2 separate regions of the Homo sapiens genome follow, and region 2 is linked to region 1. Evidence: fine-mapped expression QTL. Tissue or cell type: whole blood. Region 1 holds a variant in brackets; the other region holds the start of a gene. All regions are shown on one strand. Distances are from middle to middle.

Region 1 (8,246 bases):
TCAGCCTCCGGAGTAGCTGGGATTACAGGCATGTGCCACCACATCTGGCTAATTTTTGTAGTTTTAACAGAGACAGGGTTTCACCATGTTGGCCAGGCTGGTCACGAACTCCTGACTTCAGGTGATCCAACTGCCTCAGCTTCCTAAAGTGCTGGGATTACAGGCAGGAGCCATTGCGCCTGGACTACATATTATTTTTTTTAACGTATAGATATCCATATATTTTCTAAAATATGGGAATCAATATATACGTATAGATTTATCCTTAAACTTGTTTTATAACATACAATTTTCCATATACTTAAATATTCAAAATCACAAATATTAATATTTTATAACATTATTTCATATGTATATAATTATTTAATCAATTCCCTGTATTTAACAATTAGGTTGTTTCCAATTTACAGCATTACCAGGATTGCGGAGATTGATATTTTTGTGTTTATTTAGATTATTTTTCCATAATAAATTCTCAGAAATGAAAATATTGCTGAAGGATCAAAACACTTTTGAGATTTTTGCACATTTTGACAAATTTTGACCTAACAGATTCCTAGTAGCAGTGAGTGAGAGTACTCATTTCATCATATACCTGACAGCAGTGAGTATTATTTTAAAAGACATACATGCCAAGTTGAGGGAATAAAGTGTTATCTCTGCTTCATCTTTCATTTCTTTGATTACCAGTCATGTGGGACTTTTAAAACATAACTGTGTTAATGGTCATTTCTATTTACTCTTTTGTAAATGATCATTCTTTTATTTGATCAATACTTATTGATTGCCCACTATGTGTGAAGCACTGCAGAAGGTGTAACATTCAGCAGCAAATGAGAGAGAGACAGCCCCTGCCCTAATGGAACATAAAGTTTTTTTTTTCTTTTGAGGACAGAGTCTCAGTCTGTTGCCCAGACTGGAGTGCAGTGGCACAATCTCGGCTCACTGCAACCTCTGCTGCCTGGGTTCAAGTGATTCTCGTGCCTCAGCCTCTGGAGTAGCTGGGGTTTCAGGCGTGTGCCACCACATCCGGCTAATTTTTGTATTTTTAGTAGAGACGGGGTTTCAGCAGGAATCACTGCTGACCTCAGGTGATTCGCCTGCCTTGGCCTCCCAAGTTGCTGGGATTACAGACGTGAGCCACTGCGCCAGGCCTTTTATGGTGGTTTTTGATGTGAGTAAGTGATATACAAAAGTGTAGGAAAATTGGTCTCCCTCTCTTTCTGGTTTATTTTTTCCTTTATCATTGATTAGAAAGATATTTGAAATTCTAGATTATAAATTCACATATTTATTATTTCTTCTGGGTCTCCTGAGTGTAGTTTTTACACTTAATAATTAAATCCATCCAAAATGTACATTATTGTATCTTGTAAGGCAGTGATTTATCTTCTCACTGAAACAGTTAACTCTCTATTTTAACACTATTTATGAAATAATCCTTCCTCCTCTTGAATGATTAGTCATCTCACCTTTATCATATACTAAGTTCTTTTTGAGTAGATATATATTAGGATCCATTTCTGGGCTATTTGTTTCTACCATCAATTTTTATGTGTGTACTACGTTATTGTAGTGTCATAATATGTTTTATTATCTGGTAATGTAAGTTCACTTAATTTATGTGAGAATCATTAATTAAACTGGTTTTAGTAGCTGCTGGAGTTCAGCCTGACTGATGAGATTGCATGGTTTTTATGATGTCGTATAAAGATATATAAAAGCAAAACCTTTTCTTTTTTTCATATGGACTTTTTTCCTTTGACTATAATGTAGCACATGTTGTAAAACTTTGGATCTTCCAGAAAAACACAAAGGAGAAGATAAACATCACCCAATTCTGTCACCAGAGAGAGCCTTTTAAAATATTTTGAATCTTATACCTCTGGCCTTTTAGAGATGCACATGATACATATTATTTTATATTATCCTGCAGGGATTGTGCCTTTTATTTCTAACGATATCTCAGTGGAACACTTTCTATGTCATTAAATACTCTTAGTCTTTTAAAACATTAATTTAATGATTTCATATGACATGTAGAATGTATCATACTATATTTAACCATCCTTAGGTTTATTTGCAGTCTCTATTTTAAATGGTGCCACGATGAACATTCTTAGGGAGTAGGTTAGAGGTTTTTTTCTCTTTTTCACTCATTTTTCTTCTTTCTCCATCGTGTTTGGAAAGAGGTATTTTGGTAAACTGGAGAACAGTGATAGCTTTGATATGCTAAACGCATCAGACTTATCCCAAGGAAACCTGTTGATATGGTTTGGCTGTGTCCCCACCCAAATCTCATTTTGAATTTTAATTCCAACAATTCCCACGTGTCGTGGGAGGAACCTGGTGGGAGGTAATTAAAACACGGGGGGTGGGTCTTTCCCGTGCTGTTCTCGTGCTAGTGGATAAGTCTCACGAGATCTGACGGTTTTAAACACGGGAGTTTCCCTACACAAACCGTTTCTTTGCCTGCCGCCATCCACGTAGAATGTGACTTGCTCCTCTTCGCCTTCTGCCATGATTCTGAGGCCTCCCAGCCACGTCGAACTGTAAGTCCATTAAACCTTTTTCCTGTATAAATTATCCAGAGTTGGGTATGTCTTTATCAGCAGCATGAAAATGGAGTAATACACCTGTTAAGAGTAGCAAGGAATGATGCCATGAGTAAAAGATGGAATCAGGCGGGGCGCAGTGGCTCAGCCTGTAATCCCAGCACTTTGGGAGGCCGAAGCGGGCGAATCACCTGAGGTCGGGAGTTCAAGACCAGCCTGACCAACATGGAGAAAGCCCGTCTCTACTAAAAATACGAAATTAGCCGGGCGTGCGGGCGGATGCCTGTAATCCCAGCTACTCAGGAGGCTGAGGCAGGAGAATTGCTTGCACCTGGGAGGCAGAGGTTGCAGTGAGCCTAGATTGTGCCATTGCATTCCAGCCTGAGCAACAAGAGTGAAACTCCGTCTAAAAAAAAAAAAAAAAAAAAAAAAGATGGAATCAGCTGCCGAGTGTGGTGGCTCACGCCTGTAATCTGTAATCCCAGCCCTTTGGGAGGCTGAGGTGGGTGGATCACAAGTTCAGGAGTTCAAGACCAGCCTGACCAATATGATGAAACCCCATCTCTACTAAAGATACAAATATTAGCCAGTAATCAGAAGTTAAAGCATTCATTCCTTAATCTATTCATCAAATGGCTAAGAAGTTTCTAAAATGCTCTCTTCTATGGAATATGAAGATAAATGAGATTTGACCCCTAACTTCAAAGAACCCGTGATCAAAATTTGTGTCTATGTGTGCGTGTGTGTGTGTGTGAATGAGGGAGATACACAACAGGTAATTATGATATAACACAATAACTGATATACAGAAACATGAACATTTTGCTTGATCCATAATTAGTCAAATCACTAATCTGAGTCTCTTGTTTTTACCCACTATTCCATGCTCCTAATAAAAATAACATTTGAAAATATCAACAGGGATATCTAAATAGATACACATTCATGTCCTATGTTTTGCAGTATGGTGTGCATCCTACATGTACAGGGTCGATTTTTCTACCTCCCTGAGATAAGCTCCCACATTAATCTGCTATGGTACTACTTTCCTCCCTTTATCAATGATTCAAAGAATAACAAGCCAGACATCCTTGGCAACTGAAATCATTTCAATGTATTGAAATCATAAGGTGTACTGGTTAGCTATGGACTGTGCTGTCTCTTAACCCATTCAGAAAGATGAGGGTAGCCGGGCGCGGTGGCTCAAGCCTGTAATCCCAGCACTTTGGGAGGCCGAGGCAGGCGGATCA[C/T]GAGGTCAGGAGATCGAGACCATCCTGGCTAACACGGTGAAACCCCATTTCTACTAAAAATACAAAAAATTAGCCGGGCGCCTATAGTCCAAGCTACTCGGGAGGCTGAGGCAGGAGAATGGCGTGAACCGGCAGGCGGAGTTTGCAGACAGCGCCACTGCACTCCGGCCTGGGTGAAAAAGAGTGAGACTCCGTCTCCAAGCAAAAAAAAAAAAGATGAGGGTCACCAGCAAAATTTCTTTCATTTTACATTGTTGATATCTCTGTTTTAATCCGTAGTCCTTGTGGAAGGTGGCTGTTGCCTGTTATACCTTGTGAGGGGGCTTAGCTAATCAACCCTTATTAATTAGTCACTAATATGGGCTATGTACCAACAACTGTTTTCACTAAGTGGTGGCAGCACTAATTGATGGGGCATAATGAGCCCCTCCCGAATTACGAAGAAACATTGCTCCTTACCCTCTGTAGATGATCCCTTATAGATGAAGGGCTACCAAGGGAAGGCTGGAACAGGCATGGGATGGCAGGGTCTAATTTGTTTTTAACCTGCTTCTAAGAAGTTGCTTAATTAATATAGGATTAGCACATTTGAAGGCTTGAACAGGTGCAAACACACACTTGTAACCAGCTGTGTAATTGACCGCAGTGCAACAAGCCAGGTCTGAGCATGCAGACCTCACTAATCACCTGCTGACCTCCTATCTGTGGCTGTAAAAAGACCTGTTCTTTTTAGTGCAGGATTCCCTGAATCTATCTGGAAGGCCATGTATGTTGGGATGAGTTGAAATTTTTGGTTTTTGAGCAAACCTTTGTAAATGGGTTCATCTCCACATATGATACCCCAGAAACATTGCTGCTCCCCTTTTCTTGGTTTGTTTCTGTGGCCTTACTAACAATCTGGGGAATCTTGTGGATGTTGTACAGATGCTCCTTGCCTTCGAGGGGTTACATCTCAATAAACCCATTGCAAATTGAAACTATTATAAGGAAAAATGCATTTAATACACCTATAGGTTTATCAAATGTCATAGCTTAGCCTAGCTGACTTTCAACATACTCAGAACACTTATGTTAGCCTGCAGCTGGGCCAAATCATCTAACACAAAGCCCATTTTACAATAAAGTGTTGAACATCTCGTGTAATTTATTAAATAACATACTGAAAGTGAAAAACAGAATGGCTGTATGAGTACTCAAAGTATGGTATTTATTGAATGTGTATTGCTTTTGCACCATTAAAAATGAAAAATAATTGTAAGCCAAACCATTGTAGTCGAGGATCATTTGTATATGCTGTGGTAAATAGGTCTCCAGGCTTAGATCTCAAAGAATTCCAGAGTTCTAGGAGCCTTTAGGAATAGCTACCTAGTTCAGGGGTTGGGAAACTGCAATGTGGAGCCAATTCAGCCTGCGACTTGTGTTTATAAACCAAATTTTGTTGGAAAACAGCCATGCTTATCTATGTATTTATCCATGTTGCTTTTGTGTTACAATGGCAGAGGTGAGTAGTTGTGTCATTGAGCATATGATGTGCAAAGCTGAAATTATTGACTCTCTGGCTCTATACAGAAAAAGTTTCCTGACCCTTGAGATCAAGGGTCCAATCCATACTATATTTTTCAGCTTTTGTAGTAAAATTAAGTAAATTGCCCTTTATAAAAAGTTTTCAAGGAGCTCACTGTCTAGCAGAGGAGATGAAATACCCAAAATATGTGTAAATTCCTTCCAAATTGCTATTTCTCGTACGTGAAATCTGATTTTTAAAAACTTCACTTCTCATTATTTTTTATTTTCCTGCACAGTAGATTGGGATCTAGGCCTAAATCTAGTTCCTATTCAGTCTGTGTCACCATACCTGGCATCAGTGTATCATATATTTGTTAATTTGTTTATTATCTGTCTTCCTCTATCACAATGCAAGCTTCACAAAAGAAAAACTTTACATTTCTTATTCACATATCCCTAGGGCCTAAAATAGCAACCTGAAATATACTGGATACACAAAAAAACTGTGTTTTATGGAATCTAAGAAGCCATCGGTTGTAAGTTGTACCATTATTTTATATACCACTAAGAAAGAAAAAGCACTGGCAATTAGTCTGTAACACATGCTGAGTCTCCTTGATTGAAAAATACATCCTTGTTCCAGAATTGTTAAGATGTGAAACAATATGCACCTTAAAACCAATGAAGAAGGAGAATTGTCAAGTAGGTGGGAGAAGTGGCGATCTTATAATGATTTTCAAGGCTTAGCTAACATTTTGTCTCAAACCAAATCACAAATATTTATTGAGTAATTGCTTTGTGCAATATTCTGGCCTGGTGCTTCCTCCAAATCATCCCTTACCATAGCACCTTGGGGAACTCCTTGGCGTGCATCCCCCAAGCTGTAGAGACTCAGAGTCTGACGAGCCAATTTAGGACTTAATTATATACTCCTTTTATTGATCACCATTGTTTCTAATGACATAGTCTTTTCTCCACAACTAATTGGTAAGCCCCTTGAGCGCAGGAACTGGTTTTTTAAAGAATGATGTATTCTTCACAGTGCTTTCCCTTTCTGTTACCCAGGGAGCACATGGCAATATAAGGGCTCCTGGGATTGAATCTTAAGTACAGAGAAAACCTAAGAATGCTTTTAGATAGACAGATAAGAGACCAGTAGAGAAGAGCAGATTGAAGGTATGTGTGAGAAACGTTATGTAATGAAAAGATAATTGATGACACACACTTCCAGAGGGTGCTGGCGAGATTGATTCAAAAGCACACGGCTAGGGCACTGAGTAACGAGAAAGAAGTTGCAGATGAAGGATAAATGGACAGGAATAAGAAAGGGCTTCATCATTTAAGAATCTGAAAGAGACAAAAAGGTAAGGAAGGGACTAAATGGGAAGAAAGGGAGAAAACAAACCTTTTCTAATCTCATTAGCTTCACTCTTCCAATGTCCTCCCCACCTCTTCTCAAGGCTCCAGAGAATTTGTCTCCAAATGAAGCCCATTCTCTCTTCTTTCTTGTTAATACTGCCTCCTCTTCTCCCTCTCTTCTTACTACTTTCCCTCCTTAGGCCTACTTACATCTTCTTTCCTCATCAATTCAAAGCTTTCAATTGGTCTTTCTTAGTAAGACATCTCTTTCTAGATTTAGACATATTTTAGGAATTATGAGGACAGAAAAGCAATGCAGGGGAATATGGGGAAGAGGAAGGAACCTGTAATTTATGAATCACTTTTTTTTTTTCACATCTCCTAGGATCTTTACCTAGACCTTTCATTTAATCACAGACACCTTCCTTTAAAATTTTAGATACCCGTCCAAGGGTTCACTAGCAAAGCTGTCGCATGAATTCCAGTCCTCTGGTTTCAGAACCCATATACTGTGCTGACTTTTTTATTTTTATAACATCATGTTGCCTTTCTATAGAGGTAGTTCCTTCTTCTAATTATGAAAGGCTCGTGCTTATGTGTATTCTTATGTTTAATGCCTAGTTTTCATTACTTGAAGAGATTTTGGCAAGATTTAGTACTTTTTAAATATATTTAATTGCACAAGTAATACAGGTCCACAGGAAAAACGATTGAACAATCGTGATAGGCAAAATGAAGAAAATGAAAAATTATCCAGCATCCTTTGTGCCACGGCTTTCAAAATCAGTAAGATGAAAACCAATCCTCCTTCATTACAAAGTATTTTGAATAAGAATATAAGCTTAAGTGCTCATTCAGCAGCAGACAGACATGGGCTAATAGCTCAATGGCCTAACATTTCATCCCCGGACCAAAGCATTAGTTTTAGGCCTTCTTGTGTGGGATCTGTGGATTGTTTTATTTTCTTTCCTAATGAGCAATTGGACTAAAGGATCAGGTTTAATTATAACTAGAGTCCCTTTCTGTTTGTACATCACTGCAGACCTAATTGTAGGCTGGCATCCCTGCTGCGGCCTGAGTGGTCATTAGCTTGCTGATAATGAACTATGCTTGTCAACATGGCCTCATTAACCATTGTTTTTTTTTCAGCAACATGGTTGTAAGGGTTTGAACTTGTGATTGAGGATGTGCTGGACTCATCGTGCTGAGAGAAACTTGTCCAGTTACGTGGTTAGAACCAAAGAGTTTTGGCTCAGACAAGTGATGCTATCCAAGGATAACTGGATCTATGCTGCAGCCTCAGGAATGTGACATGTCAGGAAGAACCCTGACCTGAGAGTTAGAGAGTGAGATTCTTATCCCAGCTCTGTGCTGTGTAGCCCTGTGACTTTGGGCTAATTGTATCACTTTCTGTCCTCTAGTTTTCTCACCTGAAAATAAGAAGGTTCTACTCAATGATTGGTGAGATAACTTTTTGTCAATAAAAATAATTTTGCATGATGCTTGTGCAAACATTTTTTTCCTTTTTTTTAATCAGTGATTTTATCTTCTTAGGTTATACACTAGAGGGCAGTGG
Region 2 (8,246 bases), 140 kb before region 1:
CGAATGGTTTAGCACCATCTCCCTAGGTACTGTCCTGGGGATAGTGAGTTCTTGTGAGAGCTGGTCGTTTAAAGGTGTGTAGCACCGCCTCCCTCCCCCCTCCCCCCGAAACGCTCTCTTGCACCTACTTTGACCATGTGACAGGCCTCTCCAGAGGGCCAAACAGATGCCAGCATCATGCTTAAAGCCTATAAAGCCTGCAGTACTGTGAGCCAATTAAATCTCTTTTCTTTATAAGTTACCCAGTTTCAGGTATTTCTTTATAGCAATGTGAGAATGGACTAATATAACATCCAATCAGATACCAAGTTCCATCACTTCTGTTTCTGAAATCTCTCTCCATTGGTTCCCTTCCTTTGCATGGCAGTTGTCACTGCATTAGCTCAGACCCTCATTCATTTATTCTGGATGTATCAGCTCTGTCTGAATTATGAAAAATTTCACCTAGAGTCTCATGTCTAACCCTTTGTTTTAGCTGTTTGCTCAGCCTGGTTTACCCTTCTCTACCACACCTATTGGGCTACTTGAAGACATAGATTTAAATCACTGATATGGTTTGGATCTGTGTCCCCAGCCAAATCTCGTGGTCGAATTGTAATCCCCGATGTTGGAGGTGGGGCCTGGTGGGAGGTAATTGGACCATAGGGACAGAGTTCTCATAAATGGTTTAGCACTATCTCCTGGTGCTGTTTTTTGTGACAATAAGTTCTTGAGAGACCTAGTTGTTTAAACATGTGTGGCATTTCCCTGCCCCACCCCGCCTTGCTTCTGTTCCAGTCACGTAAGACATGCGTGCCTGCTTCCCCTTCACCTTCTACCATGATTGTAACCTCCCTGAGGGCTCCCCAGCCATGCTTCCTGTGCAGCTGCAGAACCATGAGCCAATTGAACTTCTTTTCTTTATAAATTACCCAGTTTCAGTTATTTCTTTATAGCAATGTGAGAACAGATTAATATAATCACCTTCTCAGAGAAGACTTGATTCTTTTCATCAACTCCTTTCCTTTAAATTCTTCTTCTCTGTGCTCCCAATAGCACATCATGCTTAAGTCTATCATATCACACATTATGTATCACTCACACATTGGGTACAACTATCAGTACCCTGATAATTGATTTGCTTGTCTTACTCCTTCCCTGGATTGAGAGGTCTTTGAGGACAGGGAGACCATGTCTAATATCATTATCTTAATACAACCTAGCAGATTGTCTGGGAGGAAATCAATAAATGCTCCAGAGAATGAATATCCATTCACACTGTAGACTCCTTAGGAAGATCTGAGAGAGTTTGTTCACATAATATTATAGCATTCAACGTGTTTATTTAGTCTTATTAAATTTTGACTGCAATTTAAAAAAAATTTGCATAGTTGCATGGTTGAAAATAATCAGTGGTGATGTTACTCAGTTGTGCAAAATATTTGGGATAATAGGCAGCACTATTCGTGCTTATGTTCTCATTCATATTGGCAGCAGCTTCTTCCCTTATCCTGTTAACAAGAGATTATAATTTATGAATGGTAATTTGAAAAGTGGACTCTGTGTTGAACTTTGGTTTAAGGCTCAGGAGATTTGCATCAACACCAATGAATAAACTAACCTCTTAGAGGTTGCTTTTTATCTTTCCTAGTTCCTGTCCACCAAAATGGTCACTATACCAAGAAAATTCCTTGAAATAGATTATCTCAGAACCTAAGCCATTGCTAAATCTGAAGGTTGGACTTCCTTTGGGATGGTTTTCATTTACATTCACCTTCCTCATGTAACTCAGATTTAGGTCTCATTCTAGCTTGGCCTGTGTCTGGTTTGGGCCAATCTCTTAAATCTTCCTGGACATCAGTTTCCTTATTTTTTTTTTTTTTTTGAGACAGAGTTTCGCTCTTGTTACCCAGGCTGGAGTGCAATGGCGCAATCTCGGCTCACTGCAGCCTCTGCCTCCCAGGTTCAAGCGATTCACCTGCCTCAGCCTCTCGAGTAGCTGAGATTATAGGCACCCACCACCACGCCCAGCTAATTTTTTGTATTTTTAGTAGAGACGGGGTTTCACCATGTTGGCCAGGCTGGTCTTGAACTCCTGACCCCAGATGATCTGCCCGCCTTGGCCTCTCAAAGTGTTGGGATTACAGATGTGAGCCACCGCACCCAGCCCAGTTTCCTTATTTTTAAAATCAGGTTATTTGCTAAAATAGCTAGGAAGACTTTTCAAGCTCAAATATCCTACCGTGGGTTCTTTTATCATCTTATTGCCCCTGTCCTTTTTCTCTTCCTCCCTGACTGGTGAGCTGGTCCTCCTACCTGCCCTAGCATGGCACATGTAGATACACTGTGTTATTCAGCACTTTGCTTTGACCTAGAGGTTTTCTTCAACTTGGAGGGCTGAGAAGCAATGTTTGCTTGTGTCGTTTGGAATGGTGCCTGTTGGCGTGCACAGATCCTTTCCACAAAGGGCCTGTGAGTCCCTTCCTTTTAGGAAGCACATTCCTGACAGTGGTTGCAAAAGTAGAGAGGGATTGCAGAGTGAACACAGATTCTTGTGTCAGAGCGACATTCCTAAATGGCAATGTTCAGCAGACTTAGGTGATTGTGATCTATGGGGGATATGGGGAATGAGTAGGTATGCGATTCATTATGAATGTCACACAAATGAAGTGTCCAAGGGTTTGGAGCAAGGAAGCACTTCATAATACCTCACAGCTTCTGGATTATTTTGTTACATTTTTGTTTAATTGAGGGTACAACCAGTTAAGTTACAAAGCACTTCAAGTGAAATCATTGTTTCATCAAGAAGTGTCTGTATTTTATGAGGTAAACTAAGATTATTCCCGATTTGATTCACAGGTATTCTAATTTCATCATTAGATGCAAAAGGACAAGTGAGGTACAAGCTGTTTTTTGATGAGATGTGCATGGGAAGTGTTTCTATAAAACAGTTGTCTGCCACGTGGGAAGGCAGGTCTGGGCTGTTAGAAGTAGAAGAAAGAGATTTAAAGAGCTGGGAAGGAGGGAGAAAATAAAGAAAGGTGGCCTGTGAGGATATGTACAGACAGAGAGGTAGCAGGCGCTTAAGGCCAAGAGGTGAGCTGTCCCTGTCTGGGCAGAAGAAGTGCGCTAGGGGCAGCTGCCTGCACCCCCTGCTCTGAATTCCTGCAACAGCGGTCCCAGGAGAACAAGAGACAGGTCCTGACAAGCAGTAGAGTCGGTGCAGCGCGCCCGGGTTCGGATAGGGTTAAGGCCAACACCTGCAGCTGAAGTACGACCCACATGGGAAGTAGGAAGTGCGGCGCCTGAGCTTCCTGTATAAATAAACGCGCTGCTACCGCTGCTGGCGAGCTGTGCCCCACGCTCCCGCTGCAACAGTCCCGGGCATCGCAGCTGCCAGTCAAGGCTAGGAGGCGGTCGGGGACTCCGCCTCCTCCCGACCCGTAGGTCTGGGAGCGCAAGTCCTGTTGCAGTCTTGCAAAGTGTAAAGCTGTCAGCCGCAGAGCACGGAGGAAAGACGGAGAGAATGGAAGAGCTCCTGTCCGGTGTGCCAGCAGCCCGGACTGGCGGTGAGCGCGAGGGAGGCTACTGAGAAGCCCGGCGACGGAGGAACGCAGGTCTGCTGCCAGGTAGGTTTAGCGAGCTTTTTAAAGGCTACAGGCGTTGCAAGACCGGAATGGTGTTGCTGGACTAAGGAAAAAGGACAGGAAACTCACTGTGACACCACAATTTTTCGATTTTCTGTCTCTAGTGCTCAAACCATACAGAACTGAATTCATTCTGAATGCCTTAAACACCTGTTAACTTAGAAGAAAAATGCCTTTGTTAAAGGAAAGTAGTTTCATTTCTAATAAAACAGTTTCTATAATAGAATGTATTGTAGAATCCGAGATTAGACCAGACCTCTCCCTAGGTCTTAAGGGGAGACCAAAAGTTGGCATAATCTCGGATTATGCATTATAGTGCTTATTTTATCAGGTAATTGCTAATGAAACAGTGAAACTCTGATACTACGAGAGCCATTCTCAAATTTAAGTTAAAATCGAACTGATTGTCGTTTGTGCAGGGAAAAGGTAGGTATCTTTTGCTTATTCTTTCTAAAACACCTTTTGTTTTTCTCATGAGTTTCAAGGATCCTGCTGTAAGTCTACTCCTCATGCATATACACTATTCACATAAAGATTTCCCAGAAATTAATTCCCTTCTCTGGGAAATGTTCTTTTTTCATGTTCTCATAACAGACTGTCAGTTTCATATTGCTTTCTGCCACATGTATCTTATCAAAACATTAGCTCTGAGGTTCTTAACAGGACTATCTCTGCTCTTCCGATTTGGCATTTCTGGACGTTTATTTGAACATTGAGAGGTATAAATTAAATGGCAATGTATCTAACATTTCTGAGGAAGCAGATTAGGGGGTGTCTGTGCCCAGAAGCAAAATAAATGAACTTTGGGATGACTCAGTTTTTAGGGTGTGGGTAAGAGGCAAAAGGAACCTAGCCAGTCCTAACTGAGTTGCTGGCTAATTAGAGTATCTGTCTGCCGCAGCTTTCACTGAAATGAGCCTCTTGGTCCCTTTCACATCAAATCCCTCTGTGAGTCCCTCCTTCTCCTTAGTTTATCTTTCCTTCACAACCTGGGTCCTTTTCATGGACAGCAGTGCCTTAAATACTTCTAAAACTATCCTGAGGGGGAGAAAAACCTATAGCAGATCCACAAAGCCACTTGTAGATAATTGTATTATGAAATCCAAGGTCATGGTTTCACACAACTCCTGCTCTGCCCTTGCACACCTTTGACTGGCATTTTTTTTTTTATTTTTGTCGTGGGCATAAACTTAGAAAAGTGGGAAAGGGAAAAACCTCAGTTTCAAAAGTAGTCTCTGACTAATTAATTATCTTGATTAAAAAAAGGTAAACATATATAGTGAACGTGAAAAAGATGTTGAGTAGTAGAATTGGGTTGCTTGGCTTTTTATTTAAAACAAACAAAACTCAACCAAAAAAACCCCCCAAAACCCCAAACAATCACCCTAGATAACTTTCTCCTACACTACTGTGCTGGAAGTCGGGCTTGAGTGTGGTCAAATCCTGCCCATTTACCCAGAGTTTTACAAATATTTACAGTCATCTATGCCAAATATCTTTGTGCTGAGTCCCAAAGAACATTCTCAGCATTCAAAAGGCCCATTCTCATGAATGGTTTCAGTTCATTGGCAATTTAAAGGCATTCAGGCTTCCAAACTAGGTCAGCTTAAGACATGTCTTTTTAAAATAATCAGTTTTTGGGTCTCAGATTATGAACCAGGTTTTTGGAGCCAAACTCTACAGCAGAGAGAAGAGTATGCTCTCTCTGGAAAGAAAAAGCTTATTTTATCTACCTGGTATGACCATTTAACTTCCTGAAAAACGTCTTTCTCCTCAGTAGTATGAATATTTTTCATCTGAGGAGGTGCACTTAAAATTTCCTTCTTGAAAAGTCATTTCAATATTTTAGACGTTTAGAAACATTTATATGTATGTCAGAATCCTTTCTCCGAAGTGTTTCTGCTAATCCTGGCTTCTTTGTTTCCCCTGGCCTTGACTTTATGACATTACTTTCTTGGAGAGTGAAGTTTTTAGTGTTTGAAATCTCCAGTTTGAGATAGAGGTCAGGAATCATGCTGAACCCAGATGTTACTGAAGGAACAAAGTCTGAGCAGTTTTGGGACTAAGCCTACTTTGTACAACTGATTATTTTGGATGTGGGAAAAGGGCCAAGCTGCCAGACAAGTCATGCTTTTCACTTGGACTTTGGGGAATAGGTATCTGTAGCCATTGCTCCTAAGTACTGAAACATTTCTTTCAGGGGTGCCTACCTTAATTTATAGAAGCTCCTTACCTGAAACAAATGGTCAATATTTTCAGCTTGTGAATTTCTGGAAGTGAATACAGATGAGAACCAGGCCTTTAATATTTTCTCTCCTCCAAGTACAATCAGAAAAGTTATCCACTCTACTACTGAGTGACTGATTTGCTAGGTGCTAGGTTAGATGCTGGGATATAAAGATGGCTAAGATGTGGTCTCTGTCCGGAAGAAATTCTCATAAGGTCAGAAGTGACTTGGGTCTAGAGTGGTAGTTCTGAATTCACATTGCTTTGCCAGATTATAAAAAGTACTTCGATGTTTGTCACCTCGATCATCTTAATTTTCTTGGTAGTGTTACCTTGACCATTTGACCATTAAGAGGTATATGACACCTAAGTTAATTTATGTAAATATTTTAATTCATAATTTTTACCTTTAGGTGTATGTGGGAGGTCTTGGACTAAAGTTTTAGTTTTATTAACTTTGGCATTTGCTATTTACCCAGTCGGTGAGTACTTTGGAACCTAATGCATCATACCATAGTTGTTATTAAAAAATGGATAACTATATATTAAATGAGTAAAAATGACCAATGCTTCTGCAACGTGGAATGAGGATCTTCTCATCTATGAGCAGATCTCTTTCTTGAATTCAAAACACAGCAATCTAAGTGAAATAGACTTTTCTTATTCATAGCTGGAGATACTTCTGATCACATGGCTTGGAGTATTTATTAAGAGCATACTTTGAAAGCCATGTCCCATTGTTTTCTAAATCTTTTGAAGTCACGAGTTTGAGTCCCAGCCCTTCATCAACTTGTTCTTTGTTTTTCTTGGGAAGATAAAACAAGACAACTCGTTTCTGTCTGTTGAACTTGTGGCTGAAACCATAAACCCACACATTCTCCTGCATATGATTATATGAAATCCTCTGTTGAAAACCTCCTCAACTAGTTGACTCTTAATAAGTAGGAGCTGGGTTTAATCACCTTTACATCCCTAGCACCTAATGTGTAGAATTTGTTCTTTGTGTGTTGACTTTGTTTCCTTCATGATAAATTCCTGTTATAGGAAATTAATTGGCAAAGACATACAAAAATCTACACCTGCACTTTGCTCAGGTGGGGTGAAGATTCCTCTTCCAAACTGGTTTCCAATTTGTTTCTAATTAAAATTTCTATATGAAACTTTTAACTTTAACAGGAGGGGGTAATATTGGCACATGCTTTTATTCATTTGAAAAAAAATTTTTGATTTAGATATTCGTGCTTTAGCGGCTCTGGTTTTCTGGTAATGTCCTGACCCAAGAAATCAGCCTGGCTCTTGCTCTATAAGGCTCTTTGAAATACCACTTCTCCTTGATTGGTCAATTACATCATTGTCTGACCTGCCTTTAAGTGGCGTTCCTTCCTGCTTCTGAGCTTTGTTGTTATGCCAGGCATAGGGAAGAAAATTATTTAGCAGGGCTGTGTGAATAATTGTGGGAGGCAGGGAACCACTGATTAAAACAGGAGTGGGCAAGGCACAGTGGTGATATTGAAGAGGTAGCTACCATGATGAATGCAAAATTGCCATGCCAAAAATATCATTGAGCTGTTATTCTCATATTCACTCCCACCTTCTTTGATAAGTTTATATTGTTTGGAAAACTGGGAATGGATTTCTACCTCTTGGGCCTTACCCTGTAGGGTAATGAGAACATGGAAAGAAGGCAAGAAGAAATGTGCTTTTAAGAAAAAGCCAGTTGCGGTGGCTCATGCCTGTAATCCCAGCACTTTGGGAGGCTGAGGTGGGCTGATCACGAGGTCAGGAGATCGAGACCATCCTGGCAAACACGGTGAAACCACATCTCTACTAAAAATACAAAAAAATTAGCCAAGCGTGGTGGTGGGCGCCTGTAGTCCCAGCTACTCGGGAGGCTGAGGCAGGAGGATGGCGTGAACCCAGGAGGCGGAGCTTGCAGTGAGCCGAGATCGGGCCACTGCACTCCAGCCTGGGGGACAGAGCCAGACTCCATCTCAAAAAAAAAGGAGCAGCAGTTTGCAAATGTTAAAACTAGATGTGCCAAGGGCCAGGCGCGGTGACTTACGCCTGTAATCCCAGCACTTTGGGAGGCCGACGCGGGAGGATCACGGAGGTCAGGAGATCGAGACCATCCTGGCTAACATGGTGAAACCCCATCTCTACTAAAAAAAAAAAAAAAAAAAAAAAAAAATTAGGTGTGGTGGCAGGTGCCTGTAGTCCCAGCTACTTGGGAGGCTGAGGCAGGAGAATGGCGTGAACCCAGGAGGCAGAGCTTGCAGCAAGCTGAGATAGCACCACTGCACTGCAGCCTGGGCGACAGAGCGAGACTCCGTCTCAAAAAAAAAACGATGTGCCAGATGTTCTGTCCTCTGTAGGATTTGGAGTTAGCTTATCACA

The links. PIP is the estimated chance that this variant, and not a neighbour inherited with it, causes the effect.
Region 2: it holds the start of RNF144B, and the variant in region 1 is fine-mapped to the expression of RNF144B in whole blood (INTERVAL, PIP above 0.99).

What each region holds. Positions count from the first base shown.
Region 1 is chr6:18,520,284-18,528,529 of GRCh38, forward strand. MIR548A1HG (MIR548A1 host gene) reads left to right here and starts at 2,464. Exons shown (of 8, transcript NR_149116.1): 1 at 2,464-2,552. RefSeq lists an enhancer at 7,309-7,944. The variant C/T (reference allele first, on the strand shown) is at 3,806.
Region 2 is chr6:18,384,023-18,392,268 of GRCh38, forward strand. It overlaps RNF144B (ring finger protein 144B), which reads left to right and starts at 3,328. Exons shown (of 8, transcript NM_182757.4): 1 at 3,328-3,608.